Regions from separate parts of the Homo sapiens genome. Here region 2 is linked to region 1. The links come from fine-mapping of genetic effects on gene expression. Tissue or cell type: whole blood. Region 1 holds a variant in brackets; the other region holds the start of a gene. All regions are shown on one strand. Distances are from middle to middle.

What was found. PIP is the estimated chance that this variant, and not a neighbour inherited with it, causes the effect.
Region 2: it holds the start of MPP7, and the variant in region 1 is fine-mapped to the expression of MPP7 in whole blood (INTERVAL, PIP above 0.99).

What each region holds. Positions count from the first base shown.
Region 1 is chr10:28,339,191-28,347,374 of GRCh38, forward strand. It overlaps the pseudogene ZNF101P1. Among named protein-coding and RNA genes, the nearest start is that of MPP7-DT, 40 kb to the left of the region's middle. The variant C/A (reference allele first, on the strand shown) is at 4,691.
Region 2 is chr10:28,299,438-28,307,621 of GRCh38, forward strand. It overlaps MPP7 (MAGUK p55 scaffold protein 7), which reads right to left and starts at 3,627. Exons shown (of 17, transcript NM_001318170.2): 1 at 3,424-3,627. It overlaps MPP7-DT (MPP7 divergent transcript), which reads left to right and starts at 3,732. Exons shown (of 2, transcript XR_930772.3): 1 at 3,732-4,992; 2 at 5,962-6,834. RefSeq lists a silencer at 3,174-3,813.

The DNA of each region.
Region 1 (8,184 bases):
CTGCCTCAGTTTTCTGAGTACTTGAAACTACCAGCACATACCACCCGACCCAGTTAATTTTTTTTCTTTTTTCTTTTTTGATACAAGGTCTTGTTATGTTGCCCAGGCTGGTCTCAAACTGCTGGACTCAGATGATCCTCCTGCCTCAGTCTTTCAAAGTACTGGCTGCACTGGGCAAAATGAGTTCTTTCCTGTAGTCAAAGGTAATTTTAAAAACTGAAGACTTGCCCACATTGTTTACAGTCATAGGGTTTTTGTTTAGCGTGAGTCCTTTCATGTCTTCCAAGGGAACTGCACGACCCAAAGGTCCTACCACACCTTCTACATTCATAGGATTTTCCTCCAGTATGAGTTTTTTCATGTCTTCAAAAGGAACTGAGATAATTAAAGGTTCTGCCCCATGTATTACATTCGTAGGGTTTCTCTCCAATATGAGTTCTTTCATGTGCTTGAAGGGACGTGGGACATCTAAAGACTTCACCACATTTTTTACATTCATGAAGGTTTCCTGCACTATGCATTTTTTTGTGTCTTCAAAGGAAACTGGAACAATTGCGTCTTTTCCCACATTCCTTACATTCATGAGATTTCTCGAGAACATGAGCTCTGATTTCATATGTCCAAAGGTAAGTTGAAGAAATGAATGCTTTACCACAGTGTTTGCATTGGTAAGGGTTTTCTCCAGTGTAAGTTCTAACATGTATTTGAAAGGAACTAGGGCCAGGCGCATTAGCTCACACCTTTTAATCCCAGCACTTTGGGAGGCCAAGGCAGGTGGATCACGTGAGGTCAGGAGTTCAAGACCAGCCTGGCCTGGTTTCACCTGATGAAACCCCATCTCTATTAAAAATGCAAAAATCAGCCAGATGTGGTGGTGCACGCCTGTAATCCCAGCTACTCGGGAGGCTGAGGCAGGATAATTGCTTGAACCCAGGAGGCAGAGGTTACAGTGAGCTGAGATCGCGCCACTGCACTCCAGCTTGGGTGACAGAGTGAGGCTCCATCTCAAAAAATAAATTTAATTTAATTAAAAATTAAAATGAAAGGAACTGGAACAATCAAATGTTTTTCCACAGTGTTTACATTCACAGCATTTTTCTCCAGTGTGAATGTTTTCATGTATTTGAAAGTAAATGAAAACAGTGAAGGCTCTCACAATTTCTCTACATTTATAGAACCTCTTTCCAGTGTGAGTTCATTGTGAAATAAATACTGAAATTAAGGGCTTTGCCTCATAGCTTGCATTTATAACATCCCTTTCTAGTGCATATTACCATGAGTCTTGGACCACTTCTGGGAGAAATGGAGGCTCTCCCACATTGTTTATGTTTATGGGGCTTTTCACCATATTCCCCACCACACTCATATTGTTTGTGTCCAGAGTGAGCTCATGTGCCTATGAAGGAATGAATGATGTACAAAGACTATTCCACACACACTGCCTTGCATGGTTTTACTCCAGTACGAATTTTCTTGTTCAGATGACAATCTGCTTTCTGGCTGCGGGTTTCTCCACATTGACTCCTTCTTTACATCCACAGAGTCTCTCCACCATATTATTTCGTAGCTTTCTCCCAAGATTTTGGGACAGATTTTCAATGTCCTGGCTTTCCATTTGATTCCTACAGACACCAGATTCCTGAAGGCTTCCAGCATTGCATTTCTGTAGAGATTCTTCCAGGAAGGTCCCAGCAAAGCCCACTCCTCCTGGGTGAAGTTCACAGCCACATTCTCAAAGCCTACTGAGTCCATTTCCAGCTTCCTGGTGTCCTGGCATCCTCTCTACGATTCAGGCAGCCACAGCAGGTCCCATGCAACAGAAGCTGCAGTATCAGGACCACCAGTGGCCTCCCAGAGGAATTGAAATCCCCTAATCTTATTTACAATCTTAAATGCAAAAGTCATAAATAAGTTATTAGAAAATTGAATCCTACAGTACATAATATATTATGATTAAAAAGTTCTATCCAGGAATCAAATAATAGTCCAAATTTTAAATGAATTAATTTTTTAAATGAATTTATGTAACTGTGAAACAACATTAATAAACTAAAAGAAAAAATTATATAACCAACTCAAAAGTGCTAAAGAAGGATTTAATAAAATTCAACATTTTATTCAAATTAAGTAAGTTAAAACTTTAGTAGCTCATAGTAGACATTTTTTAAAACTCTGCCCAGCACTCATTCACTCTTTTGTTGGGTTTTTAGGGAACCACCATGAGGTACACTGTATTTTGGGGGTCCCAACGAACCATACCTCCCATGCTCACACCTTTGTGTATTTCTCTCTCACATTTACTCTGAACTTGGCCATGTGACCAGTTTGGGCCAAATTAATTTTTAAAAAACTTTTATTTTAGGTTCAGGGGTAATTGTACAGGTTTGTTTTATAGATAAACTCACGTCACGAAAGATTGTTGTACAAATTATTTCATGACCCAGGTACTAAGACTAGTACTCAATAAGTATTTTTTCTGATCCTCTCCCCCTCGCACCCTTCACCCTCAAGTAGGCCCCCACATCTGTTGTTTCCCTCGCTGTATCCATGTGTTCTCATCATTTAGCTCCTACTTACAAATGAGAACATGTGGTTATTTGTTTCTGTTTCTGGGTTAGTTTGCTAAGGATAACGGCCTGCAGCTCCATCCATATTCCTGCAAAGGATATGATCTTGTTCTTTTTTATGGCTGCATAGTATTCCATGGTGTACATGTGCCACATTTTCTTATCCAGTCTATCATTGAGGAGCATTTGTGTTGATTCCATTTCTTTGCTATTGTGAATAGTGCTGCAATGAACATGCACGTGCATGTGTCTTTATGATAGAATGATTTATATTCCTTTGGGTATAGACCCAGTAATGGGATTGCTGGGTCAAACGGTAGTTCTGTCTTCAGCCCTTTTAGGGATTGCCACACTGCTTTTCACAATGGTTGAACGAATTTATGCTCCCAAAACAGTATATAAGTGTTCCCTTTTCTCACAACCTTGCCAGCATCTGTCATTTTTTGACTTTTAATAACAGCCATTCTGACTGGTGTGAGATGGTACCTCATTGTGGTTTTGATTTGTATTTCTGTAATAATCAGTGACTTTCTTTCATATGCTTGTTGGCTGCATGTATATCTTCTTTTGAAAAGTGTTCATGCCTTTGCTCACTTTTTAATGAGGTGATTTGTTTTTTTCCTGTAAGTTTGTTTAAGTTCCAATGTAGATGCTGGATATTAGGCCTTTGTCAGATACAGTCTGCAAAAATTTTCTCCCATTCTGTAGGTTGTCTGTTCACTCTGTTGATAGTTTATTTTGCTGCGCAGAAGATCTTTAGTTTAATTAGATCCCATTTGTCAATTGTTGCTTTTCTTGCATTACTTTTGGTGTCTTCATCATGAAATATTTGCCCTTTCCTATGTCCAGAATGGTATTGCCTATGTTGTCTTCCAGGGTTTTTATAGTTTGGGGTTTTACATTTAAGTCTTTTATCCATCTTGAGTTGATGTTTGTATGTGGTGTAAAGAAGGGGGCTGGTTTCAATCTTCTGCATATGGATAGCCAGTTATCCCAGCACCATTTATTGAATAGGGAGTTCTTTCCCTATCGCTTATTTTGTCAGCTTTGTTGAAGATCAGATGGTTATATGTGTTTGGTCTTATTCCTGGGCTCTCTATTCTGTTCCATTGGTCTATGTGTCTGTTTTTGTACCAGAACCATGCTGTTCTGGTTAATGTAGCCCTGTAGTATAGTTTGAAGTCAGGTAGCATGATGCCTGCTTTGTTCTTTTGCTTAGGATTGACTTGGCTATTTGGGCTCTTTTTTGGTTCCATATGAATTTTAAAATCATTTTTTCCACTTCTGTGAAAAATGTCATTAGTAATTTGATAGGAATAGCAGGCAGTATGATCATTTTAACAATATTGAGTCTTCCTAACCATAAGCATGAAATGTTTTTCCATTTGTGTCGTCTCTGATTTCTTTGAGTAGTGTTTCATAATTCTCATCGTAGAGATCTTTCACCTTCCTGGTTAGCTATATTCCTGGTATTTTCTTCTTTTTGTGGCAATTGCGAATGGGATTGGGTTCCTGATTAGGCTCTTGGCTTGGCTGTTGTTGGTGTATGGGAATGCCAGTGATTTCTGTATATTAATTTTGTATTCTGAAATTTTGTTGAAGTTGCTTAAAAGCTCAGGGAGCTTTTGATAAGACTATGGGGTTTTCTAGATATAGAATCATGTAGCCTGCAAAGAGGGATAGTTTCACTTCCCTCTCTTTCTTTTTGGATGCCCTTTATTTCTTTCTCCCATCTGTTTGCTCTAGCCAGGACTTCTAACACTATGTTGAATAGGAGTGATAAAGCAGGGCATCCTTGCCTTGTGCCTGTTTTCAAGGGGAATGCTTCCAGTTTTTGCCCACTAAATATGATCGTGGCTGTAGGTTTGTCATAGATGGCTCTTATTATTTTGAGGTATGTTCCTTCAATACCTAGTTTGTTGAGAGTTTTTAACATGAAGGGATGTTGAATTTTGTCCAAAGCCTTTTCTGCATCTATTAAGTTAATTATGTGGTTTTCATCTTTAGTTCTGTTTATGTGATGAATCATGTTTATTGATTTGCATATGTTGAACCAGCCTTGCATACCAGGGATAAATCCTACTTGATCATGTTAGATTAGCTTTCTGGTGTGCTGCTGGATT[C/A]TATTTGTTAGTATTTTGTTGAGAATTTTTGTATCAATGTTCATCAAGGATATTGGCCTGAAGTTTATGTTTTTTGTTGTGTCTCTGCCAGGTTTTGGTATCAGGATGATGCTGGTTCATAGAATGAGTTGAGGAGCAGTCCCTCCTCCTCACAAATTGATATTATTAAATGTTGCAAAGCAGAGGCTTCATAAGCATTTGCATATTGGTGATTGTTCTCTAAGAATGCCCATTCTTGGAACCTAGCTGACATATTCTGAGGAAGTCCAAGCAGTCACATGGGAGAGATCCACATCAAAGAAAAATGAGGGTTTCAGCTGACAGCCCCATTTAAGACCCAGGTAGAGACCAACTGTCAGCCATGGGAGTGAAGCAATTCTGGACCTTCCAACCACCAAGTCTAGCTCCCCAGCCAATACCATGTGACACAGAAGATCTACAATCTACAAATCATGAACAACAACAAATGATTGTTTTAAGCCACGAAATGTGGTGGTAGTTTGATATAACATGGCAGAGAACTGAAACACTTTCAACATAAACATTGTCACAAAAAATGTAGAAGTTGTCAGCAAATAAATGTTGCAACATAAACATATGACCCAACCATAGTTCAGGTTGGGTCAGCGGTATTCCAGCCGATTAAAAGAAGGGTTGGCAAACATTTTCTATAGCGAACACAAGATAGTAAATAGTTTAAGCTTTTTGATCTCTGTTCCATATGATCTCTGTTCAACTACTCAGCCTGCCATTATAGCACAAAAGAAGTTATAGACAAAACACAATTGAATTGTATGGTGCTTTCCAATAAAACTTTATTTACAAAAACAGGCAGCAAACTGGATTTGACCAAGGGGCTATAGCTACCAACGCTTCATTAAGTGTATCACATTACTTGGCTGTAGGGTTTGGTTTATACAAACCCACTGTGGAAGCGAGAGGAAGAACAGAATCCTGTGTGAGTTATAGATTGTGGTATAAGCCAATAATAGTGTCATTAGCTAAGAAAGGAATGCTGAAAACGGAGTAGACTTGGAGGCAGGGCTCAGAATTAAGAGTATGATTTTGGCTTCATTAAGGTTGAGATGTCTCTGAGATATCCAAATGGATATAGGAGTATGTATTTGAACACTCTAGAAAGAAGTTTGGCAAACATAAATGTAGAAGTTGTCAGCAAATAAACTGTACTTGAAGCCATCGAACTGGGTAGAAAAGAGGGCTGAGGACTAAGCTCAAGCTCACCAGGACTTTCCACATACAGAGACAAAAATGAGGAAGAGAAGTAAGTGATATAGTTTGCATGTCTGTCCCCTCCAAATCTCATGCTGAAATGTAATCCCCAGTGCTGGGGGTGGGGTCTGGTGGGGGGTGATCGGGTCACATGGCAGATCTTTCAGGAATGGCTTAGCACCATCTCCTTGGTGATGAGTGGGTTCTCGCTCAGTTCACACAAGATCTGGTTGTTTAAAAGAGTCTAGGACCTCCTTCTTCTCTCTCTCTTACTCCCTCTCTTGCTCCTACTCTTGCCATGTGATGCACCCATTCTCGCTTTGCCTTTCGCCATGAGTAAATGCTTCCTGAGGCCTCCCCAGAAGCAGAGCAGATGCCAGCACCGTGCCTGCACAGCCTGCAGAACTATGAGCATATTAAACCTCTTTTCTTTATAAATTACCCAGGAGCTGGTATTTCTTCATAGCAGCACAAGAACAGACCAACACAGCAAGTAAAGAAAACTAAAAAGGAGTGGCCAATGAAGAGGGAATAAGGCCAAAAGAGCATGATGCCCCAGATGCCAAGCAGAGAGAGGGATTGAAGGAAAGATGGTCAAGTGGATAATAATAGGTAATGCTCTGAGATGAGGACAGTGAATTACCAAGTGGATTTGGCACAATAGAGGTCTCTGATAACTTCAACTTGAGGAGTTTTAGTGGTGTGGGGTGGGTACAGGGAACAAAAGCACATATGGCATAAGAGTGGCATAAATTGACATAAGAGTAATGATGGGCTAGGGAGTAGAAACAAGGAGTATAGGCATGTTTTTTCAGGGAGCCACAAGAGGTGTTTTGTTTAAGTGTGATGTTGTGCCAAGTGTTGCTAGGTCTCTGGAATCCATATGTTCATACAATTTGGAAGGAAAATAAAGAATTGTAGAAAATGGAAGAATTTTTTTTAATAGGAAATTTTCCTAGAACCAGCAGCAGAAGTTTCCTATTAGTATGTAGGAAGGAAAGTATTCAAATGAAATTCCAGAACTCTCACTAATATCTACCAGAAATCCAGAACAACATCATTTTTAATAACAAAATAGAAACATTAAAATTAGGATCAAATCAAGAATGTCGAGAAACACTGCTGTTATTCCACATTGTATTAGAGCCCTAGCCGATGCAGTAGATGCAAAAAATAAGATAAGATGTAATATTTGAAAGAGAGACTTTCATTATTTATATGCTGTAAAATCAGTGGTATGATGATATATGATAAACAACTGGTTCTGAGTGTAGTTTCCAGTATGAATGTTGGTTGATGGTTTTATTTATATATGAACAACTTAAAATTAAAATGGAACAACTTGAAATTAAAGTGAAACAACTTGCCTGAACTTCACTTGTTGGTCAATGATATGAGCAACTTCTTGGTTAAATTGAAAAATCGTTTTTGAATACTTCAAGAGTATTTATTTCCTCAATTTTTTGTGTTTTTCACAATGTAATGACTACAGGTATGACACATTCACAAGTTTAATCTCTGTGTTGTCTGTTTTGTGTCATCCTAACAAAATATCTGAGACTGGGTAATTTATAAAGAAAAGAGATTTGGCCAGGTGTGGTAACCCACACCTATAGTCCCAGCACTTTGAGAGGCCAAGACAGGTGGATTGCCTGAGCCTCAGAGTTCAAGACCAGCCTGGGCAACATATTGAAACCCAGTCTGTACAAAAAAAATTTACAAAAAATTAGCTGGATGTGGTGGCACACACCTGCAGTTCCAGCTACTTGGGAGGCTGAGGTGGGAGGATCGCTTGAACCCAGGAGGTGGAGGTTGCAGTGAGCCAAGATCATGCCACTGCACTCCAGCCTGGGGAACAGAAGAAAGAAAGGAAAGAAAGGAAAGGAAAGGAAAGGAAAGGAAAGGAAAGGAAAGGAAAGGAAAGGAAAGGAAAGGAAAGGACAGGAAAGGGAGAAAGAAAGAGGAAGGAATGAAGGAAGGAAGGAAGGAGAAAGAAAGGGAAAAGAAGAAAGAAAAAAAGAAAGAAAGAGAGAAAAAAAGAAAGGAAAGAAAGAAAGAAAGAGAAAAGAGAAAGAAAGAAAGAGGAGAAAAGAGGTTTATTTAGCTCACACAGTTCTGCAGGCTGGGAAGTTCAAGGGCATGGCCTTGGTTTCTGGCAAGGTCTTTTGTACTGCATCATAACGTGGTAGAGAACATCAAAGGGGAAGTGGACATGTGTGAAGAGAGACAAAAATCTGAAACACATCCTGGCTTTATAACAACCC
Region 2 (8,184 bases), 40 kb before region 1:
TTATATAGGTGCAGTTCATGGAGCCCCAAAACAATTAGAATCGTAACATCAAAGATCACTGACCAGAGATCACCATAACAGACAGAATAACAATGAAAAGTTTGCAATATTGTGAGAATTACCAAAATATGACAGAGACACACAAAATGAACATACACTATTGGAAAAATAGCACCAATCGACTTGCAGGGTTGCCAACGAACCTTCAGTTTGTAAAAAACACAGTATCTTCAGAGAGCAAGCCTGACTAACAATTTCCTTCACTTTAAATTCAAAATGAAGGAATACCCTTTCCTTCCGAATGTATCTCATTTAACAAAATTCAAGACTTTTTTTTTTTTTTTTTGAGACGGAGTCTCGCTCTGTGGCCCAGGCTGGAGTGCAGTGGCACGATCTCAGCTTACTGCAAGCTCTGCCTCTTGGGTTCAGGCCAATTCTCCTGCCTCAGCCTCCCGAGTAGCTGGGATTACAGGCGCCCACCACCACGCCCGGCTAATTTTTTCTATTTTTTAGTAGAGACAGGGTTTCACCGTGTTAGCCAGGATGGTCTCAATCTCCTGACCTTGTGATCCGCCCGCCTCGGCCTCCCAAAGTGCTGGGATTACAGGCGTGAGCCACCATGCCTGGCCAAAACTCAAGACTTAAGTCATTCATTACAATTTTGTCTGAATTGCAATTAGGAGAGAAACAGCTGCAGTACCTTTGTATCTTTGTCAGTGAAATGTTTATAACAAGGAAAAACAAAAATCTGTTTGAAATCTCCAGTAAGCGCCCCCCAGTGCACCATCTAGTGGAAGTCAGGTAGTGTCATAATTAATTTAAAGAAAAAAGTCACAGAAACTCTGAAAACCATTGGGGGAGGGGGAGAAGTCAAAGCTTCAGGTAAGAATACAAGCAAATACTTTACAAACAGCCAAAATATCTTTCCAGTGTCCCACAATGCAAGAGGGCTGGGCTTATGAGAATAAATGATTCATTTTCTGTATAATCAACAGATGATAAAAGTTCCTTTATGGAAATTTTTGCTTGGGTGCTAGAAATTTTGACAGGAGAGTAAAAGTTAAATAAAGCCACTAAAACATAAATAAGTAAATAAATGCTGGGCTAGAGTGACAGCCTTGTGTAAGAAGAGTTGCCTTATATGTTACATGAATATGTTAAAATGTACATGTGAAACAGAGGTATTAGCCACAAAACAAGAGATAACTTCATGATTAGAACAGTTACATTCAGGCTGGGTGCAATGGCTCACGCCTGTAATCCCAGCACTTTGGGAGGCCAAGGCAGGCAGATCACTTGAGGTCAGGAGTTCGAGACCAGCCTGGCCAACATAGTGAAACCCCATCTCTACAAAAATATTAAAAAAAAAAAAATAGCTGGGCGTGGTGGCATGCGCCTGTAGTCCCAGCTACTCAAGAGGCTGAGGCAGGAGAATCACTTGAACCAGGGAGGCAGAGATCACAGTGAGCCACAGCACTCCAGCCTGGACAACAGAGTGAGACTCCACCTCAGAAAAAAAAAAAAAAAGAGTTCCATTCAGTAATCCATAAGACATTTTCATGTTCCTGATAACTAGTAAATTTAACAAAACCTAACGATTCTCTAGAATTCCCTAAGCCTTAACATCATACAAGCGGCTACTCCCAACTACCCATTTCAGCCTGTCCCACACTAATGCCCAAACTCCTTTGGTCAAGTTATTCTAATTAAGAAATTATTCTTCAATCCGTCTATAAATTTACAGTAAACACTTCCCGAAACAAAGTCATAAGTCATGATCAAAATGCATTACACTTCATTAGTATTTTCCTTCTGCATATCAATTATTTCTATTCAATTCAAAAAAAGGTACCGAAATTCAATGCTGAGCTAGAGATGCAAACACAAATAAGGTTCTCTAATTTGGAAAGCTTCCCAAAATTTAAAATAGAGATTTTCACACAGCATTCCTAACTTTTGTTTGTTTTGCCTGTGTGGAAAATTACCTTTCACCTGAAATTCAAACTAGCTAAGCAACCTGAATGGAAAGAAAAACCTCGCAGATAATATTTCTTTACTTGAAAATAACCATCTCCACCTCTGACCTGTGTATACGGGATCAAATTGGTATGCAGAAGTTGGCTTGATGGCGGGAATCTTACCCAGATTTTGGATTAAATCCATTATAGGTATAAAATAAAGTAGGAGTAAAGTGGGGCAGGATTCCTTTCATTTCTAGGGCTTTCAGTTGACATACCTGTAAAATGGACATGCTATGCACAGCCTGCCTCAGAAGAGTAGGAGGATGGCATACTATATAATTGATAGAGTGCTATGAGCTTCACGATTAAATGGAAATACTGTTTTTATAGAACCAGAGTGAACCTGAGCATAGAAAACTCTCCAAGGGCCATCGCTGTGACATTACCGCTAAAACTCAGTGACCTTCATCAATTCACTTGTAAACAAGCAATATATTGAGCAAGTCAAAGGAAAGGCAGCAACAATTCAAGATACTTCTTTATAAGTAAATCAAATTACGTAATTAATAGCCCAGGATTTACCTGCAAACTATTACTGCCTGACTAGCAGGTGCATCCCCAAAGCCTCGAGTACAGAGACTGTTTTTAGAGAGCCCCCCCTTTTTTAAATGTGAATATTGCTTTTAAAAATTAGAAAAAGAAAAAAATCACAATTCTACTCCCACCCATGGCACAGTGACAGAAACAAGGTCCCACCCCCACAATCCTTTCAAACCTGCACAGGCATTCCTCACGAACACTCCTCCCCCTCATTCCTACCTCACCGCTCCCCACTTCAGCCCAGACAAAGCTGAGTTACTCGGCTGGGTCTACCTGTCACTTAAGAAAAAGCCCCCAAATAGATTCACGCTAAATGCTGCTTTTAATTTTTTAAATAGCAAATAAGTAAATAAATAATGCTATCGTGTAGATTACACGGCCAAACGCCTGTTCTCAGAAAACATGTAATTAACACGACCCAAGTGAAGACGCCTTTCTGGCTTAGGGAAAGAAAAAAAAGAAGCCAGCCAGCTTATCGCTCCCTTTCAGTCGGTTCTTTTCCCCGGGGAGCCGGACTCTGACTCAACTCCGCAGTTTTTCCTCCACCTGTCGGTTCTCCCCGCTCTGGGTCTGCCCCGCCGCCGCCCCCGCCCGGAGTCCCGCGCGTCAACAGGGGTCTCCAGGGGTCCTCAGGGTCCCGCCCGAGGCGGCCCCGCCCCTGCCCCGGCCCCGCCCCCACCTCCTCACAAGGTGCCCGCCGCGGGCTCCCAGGCTGAGGCGCCTAGAGGCCGGCAGGAGGCTCCGGAGGACCGCGGCACCGCTCGGCCCGGTCGCCGGCGCAGGGAGCAGCTTCGGGGGCCGACCCCACCGCCCGAGCCTAGCCCTGGGCTCCGACAGGCGCTCCCCAGAGGCGCCCCATTACCTGCTCTGGGCTGCCGCGGTCCGCGGGCAGGAGGCGCACTCGCTCTGGCCCCTGCAGCCCCGGGCCCGGAGGCAAGGAGGCAGCGACCGCCACCGCCGCAGAGGACAATCGGGAGCCAGCGGGCTCGGCACCGCCGCGGCGGGCGCAGAACGCACGAGCCCAGTGGGAGCCCGGCCCCCGCCTCCAGCCCGGCTAGTAACCAACACGGCCCCCACCCTCGGAGGGGCGGGACCGCGGTTGGAGGGGCGGGGCGGGGCTGCACCGCCCGCGGGTAAGAGGGGCCTGCTGATAGGCTGCGAAGGCGATAGGCGTCTCAGACTTGAAGACGCCTCTCCAGCAGAACTCCCTCATTGGTCGGCAAGAGAAAACAAAGCTGGGCTCTGATTGGTGACAGCTCTGTAGCTCCTCCTCATACCCGCAGTCCCCGCAAGTTCCACCCCTGCCCGCCCGGTTCGCTCGCCCTTGGTTCCCACTCCCAGGTGGCTGCAGACTGGAGTGTGTTTCATGGACGAGCAACCTCCCTGAGGAGAACCCCGGATACGCAGGTTCATTCGCCAGATGCGAGTTTTCTTAAGCCGCTGCGATTCTCTGATTTCAGTATGAACTTGGTGAATAACGTAATCTTTAACTTCCTTTGGATTCAGACAAGTCTCCTAGGTTTAAAAATGCTGCATAAGATTGAGAGGGATATTGTTATGCACGAAAAAAGACATAAGGTGTTTTCACCTTTGGCGACACTGTAGGTGACTTTTTCTTATTACCTTTTTGTGTTCCATATTGAACATGTACTACATGATTAGAAAAAAAAATTCTTAAATAGAAAAATGAGTAGGGTGCGGAGAATGGTAAAGACAAACTTTAAGGAAATCCAGAGAACTGATTCTTTCACAATAGAAGAAAATACAGTAAACATGCTTAATATCTGAGGGCTACCCCGAAAAAACATGAACTGGTATCAGCGCCCTTCAGCTCTCTTAAAGAACTTTACATATGTGACCGAGGTGCCCCCATACTCCTTCCTATCATGTAACCAACACATAATGTGGACAGCACTACACTGCAAACAGAATTACAGGAAGACTCTTATAGGAAGAATTAGAATCCAAAGTACACAATCAATAAAGCTTTAGAAAAAGGGGTAGTAAAAAGCAGAAGACAAAAAAAAATCAGGTAATATAAATTGGAAAGCTCAGCTGATGGAGGGAATCATCAGAAAAAAAATAATGTGACAACACTTCAAGATGTGATAGAGACTTTGAATGGAAAGCTGAAGGGAGAGGAAGGGGATTGAGATAAGGATCAATGACCTGCAGTTAATATGAGCTCTCAGAACACATCCCCCAGAACTGGTGTCAGCCTAGAAGGCAAGAAGCATTTCTCACCTAGGGACCACTCTCACTTAACTCTCTCTAGCTGCCTTAACATTCTGTTTGTTCTTGTCATTCTCGCAAAGTTCTAAAACAGGCTATTTGAAATTAAGCACTTCCCCCCAGCAACTCCGTGAATTACGTAATAGTGAAAAATGGAGATAGACAAAAAGCAAACCTGAGGAAGGAAAGGAATGTTAAGGTAAACATAAACTTAAAGAGAAGTAAGGGCAAAACACCTGATAGAAAGAAGACAAGAAATTCTTTTTTCTCTCTTACTTCCTGAGAATAAAGTAAAGGTCTTTGGAGGACAGAATAACCTTATTGCCTAACAAAAAGAGTTTTTACCAAACCTTTCTAATAATAACTGTAATTCTAAACTGTAGTCTAAAAATACGTGTCCTAAAGTAAGTACTTTGAGCAAATAGTTTTGAGATCTAATATTTTTACATTGTGTAAGGAAAAGAAGAGGAACTTAGCCTAGTATGAACAAACTGTAGGGAATACCCTTCAAAAGTTTCTTCTACAATAACACCTGAAATTCCATCACTAACATTCTTTCACTGGGATTAAATAATGTATGTCTAAGATTATTCTTTTATTCATTTACTCATCAAACGTAATCAATATTAATCATCAAATACTAGATACTGCAATGAACGAGGCTTTCTACTAAGCACTCAGAGTATAGCCTTGAACAAGACAGACTTGCAGCTGTTTTTATCAGAAGATGGACAATGATCCAATAAAAAGATAAACTTCCAGACCGGGATCAGGGCAAAGAAGAAAACAGTGACCAGAGGGATGGGAGACACACTTAATTTTGGGAAAGGAGAAAAATGCTTTAAGGAGAAATGATCTAAGAGAAATGCTCTAAGATTTGAGGCACCACCTAAATAAGAAAACACCAACTTAGCAAAACTCCAGGGCAGATAAAATAGCAAGAACAAAGGACTTGAAGTAGGAAGAAAAGTGATGTATAGCAGGAACAGAGAGAAAGCCAGCATGGGTATCATGGTGCATAAGGAGAGTGCTACTAGACAGGTTGGAGAAGGAGGTGAGGACCTCGTAGGCAATGGTAACTTTGTATTTTGTTACAAGGATTCCTGACGGGCAACATCGAGTTGCTGATAGTGGAGTAAAATCATTATTTTTTTTTTTCCTTTTTCAGAGTCACCAGTAAAATGAGCATTCATTCATTAAGCCAATCATCAGGAATGGATCTAGGAAGAACCTACTGTTTACTAGAAATAGGTTAGATCTGTGGATATAACAATGAATAAGACAAGACTGGTGGATCTATAGAGAAACTATTACTGCACAGGTGATGGGGAAATCAAGAGTACTATGGGGCCAAGGAGACTGTCCTGCAGCAAATGAGGAATAAGCTGAAACATCAGTAGGAGCCATCCCAGAGAAAAGGGACAGGGTTCTAGATCCAGAGAACAACAGAAGAGCATTCAGCGCCTGCAAGGGAGCAGGGGATCTAATGCAAAGCCATTGCATAACCAGTCAACTTTCCCCACATCACAAGATTGCCTAGCCTGGATGGCCCCAGAATGTTGAAACAAATGTCTAATTAGTAACGACATTCTGAATGCTTGGGAGCTGAGCAAAATATGAGGAGAAGCAACCTGATTTTTGTTTCATATTATCATCTCCTTTATTCCAGCAACAAAAGACACTGAAAATAGTAAATGCCCACTTTCAACCATGACAGCCCTTTTAGGATAGTAACGGTGAGCAGTATTAATCCTATTTGACCAGAACTAGGGCAGAATTGAAGCCCCTGGAGTAGAGATCTGTTCTATTAGCCCCAGCCTTTCCGCCTGCTTCTTGGGATGGCTATCTTTACTTTATCAGTTGAGCCTCCAGCATTAGCAGATACCTATAAGGGAAGAGATCCAGCCCTCACTATGGAGGGCCAGAAAGAGAAAGCACCAGACATTAGGAAATGTCAAAGTATCTCAGTACATCCAGCTGATTAGTGACAGATAAGTCAAAATTTGCAGCAACTAAATAAATCAAAAAGTAGATTTTAAAATGTGATCTTTGAAATATTTGGCACAATGCTTCAAAGCCACTGAAAAGCTATCTCTTCACCCTAATAGAGGACAGAAATTCATTAGATAGACAGAAGAGGCTGCATACAGTAGCCCATGCCCATAATCTCAACAACTTTGGAGGCCAAGGTGGAAAGATTACTTGAGGCCAGGAAATCAACACCAGCCTGAGCAACATAGCAAGACATCTTTACAAAAAATTTAAAAATTAGCCAGGTTTGGTGGTGTGCAGCTGTAGTCCTAGCTACTCGGGAGGCTGAGGTGGGAGGATTGCTTGAGGCCAGGAGTTCTAGGCTGCAGTGAACAGAGATTTTGCCACTGCGTTCCAGCCTGGGCAACAGAGTAAGACCCTGTCTCTAAAATAGATGATAGATAGATAGAGAGAGAGAGAGAGATGATAGATAATAGATAGTTGATAGATAGATGATAGATAATAGATAGTTGATAGATAGATAATAGATCGTTGATTGATAGATTAGATAGATGTATAATAGAACCCAAAGGCAAAAATAAGTTAGTCCTCAGGAAGACCCAGATCGCAGACCTGAAAAGCCAGGAGGAACTCAATGGAATTTTTTTCCATAGCAGGTGCTCTCTCTACACCTGTGCTCTATTCTCCTATTCTGATAACCAGCCCCTGGCTCCTATGTCCCAGTGTCAGAGAAATGATGTTCCAGAGCTGCACCCACAAGGACTAAATCACCTGCCTAACCCTAACCCTAATCATAGATGATGGGGGCTGCAGGGGACCAGTATGGCTGCCAGGGCCCATCCCTGTTTATGAGCAGAGGTTTCCCAGAGAAGACACACTGGGCAGATTACCAGACACGCATTCATTGCACCCCTGACATTTTCAATCGCCAGTCAATGAGGCTTCCTTTCTAGTTACTGAAAGTCTTCACCTGCTGTTTATAGTAAACTGGAGACCTAGAGGCCAAGGCCGAAGGCTTGGATGGTAATTTCCCACATTCTCTGGAAATCTTTCTACTTCAGTTGGCTTCCAGACACCCAGTACCCTTGTGTGTTCCAGTTTCAAGTTGCCATTCTTGTTCAGGTCTTCTAGTAATTTCCTGTTTCCCTATCTGAAGTGTACCTCCTGACATCAATGTATTCAAAGAGCAAATGCTCCTGCCAAATCTATGAGTGTCAGTGAACTAGCCTGCTGCTCTGGGCTCAGATGAGACCAGCTTGCAGAACAAGCAGGACAGAGGCGTGAAGGGAAGCAGATGGCAAACCTCGATCTGCCACCATCCCTTCCACAGGCATTCCGTATGAGGACATCTGTCCCCACCCCTGGATGAAAACTTGGGTGATCCCGAAATTTTTCTGAT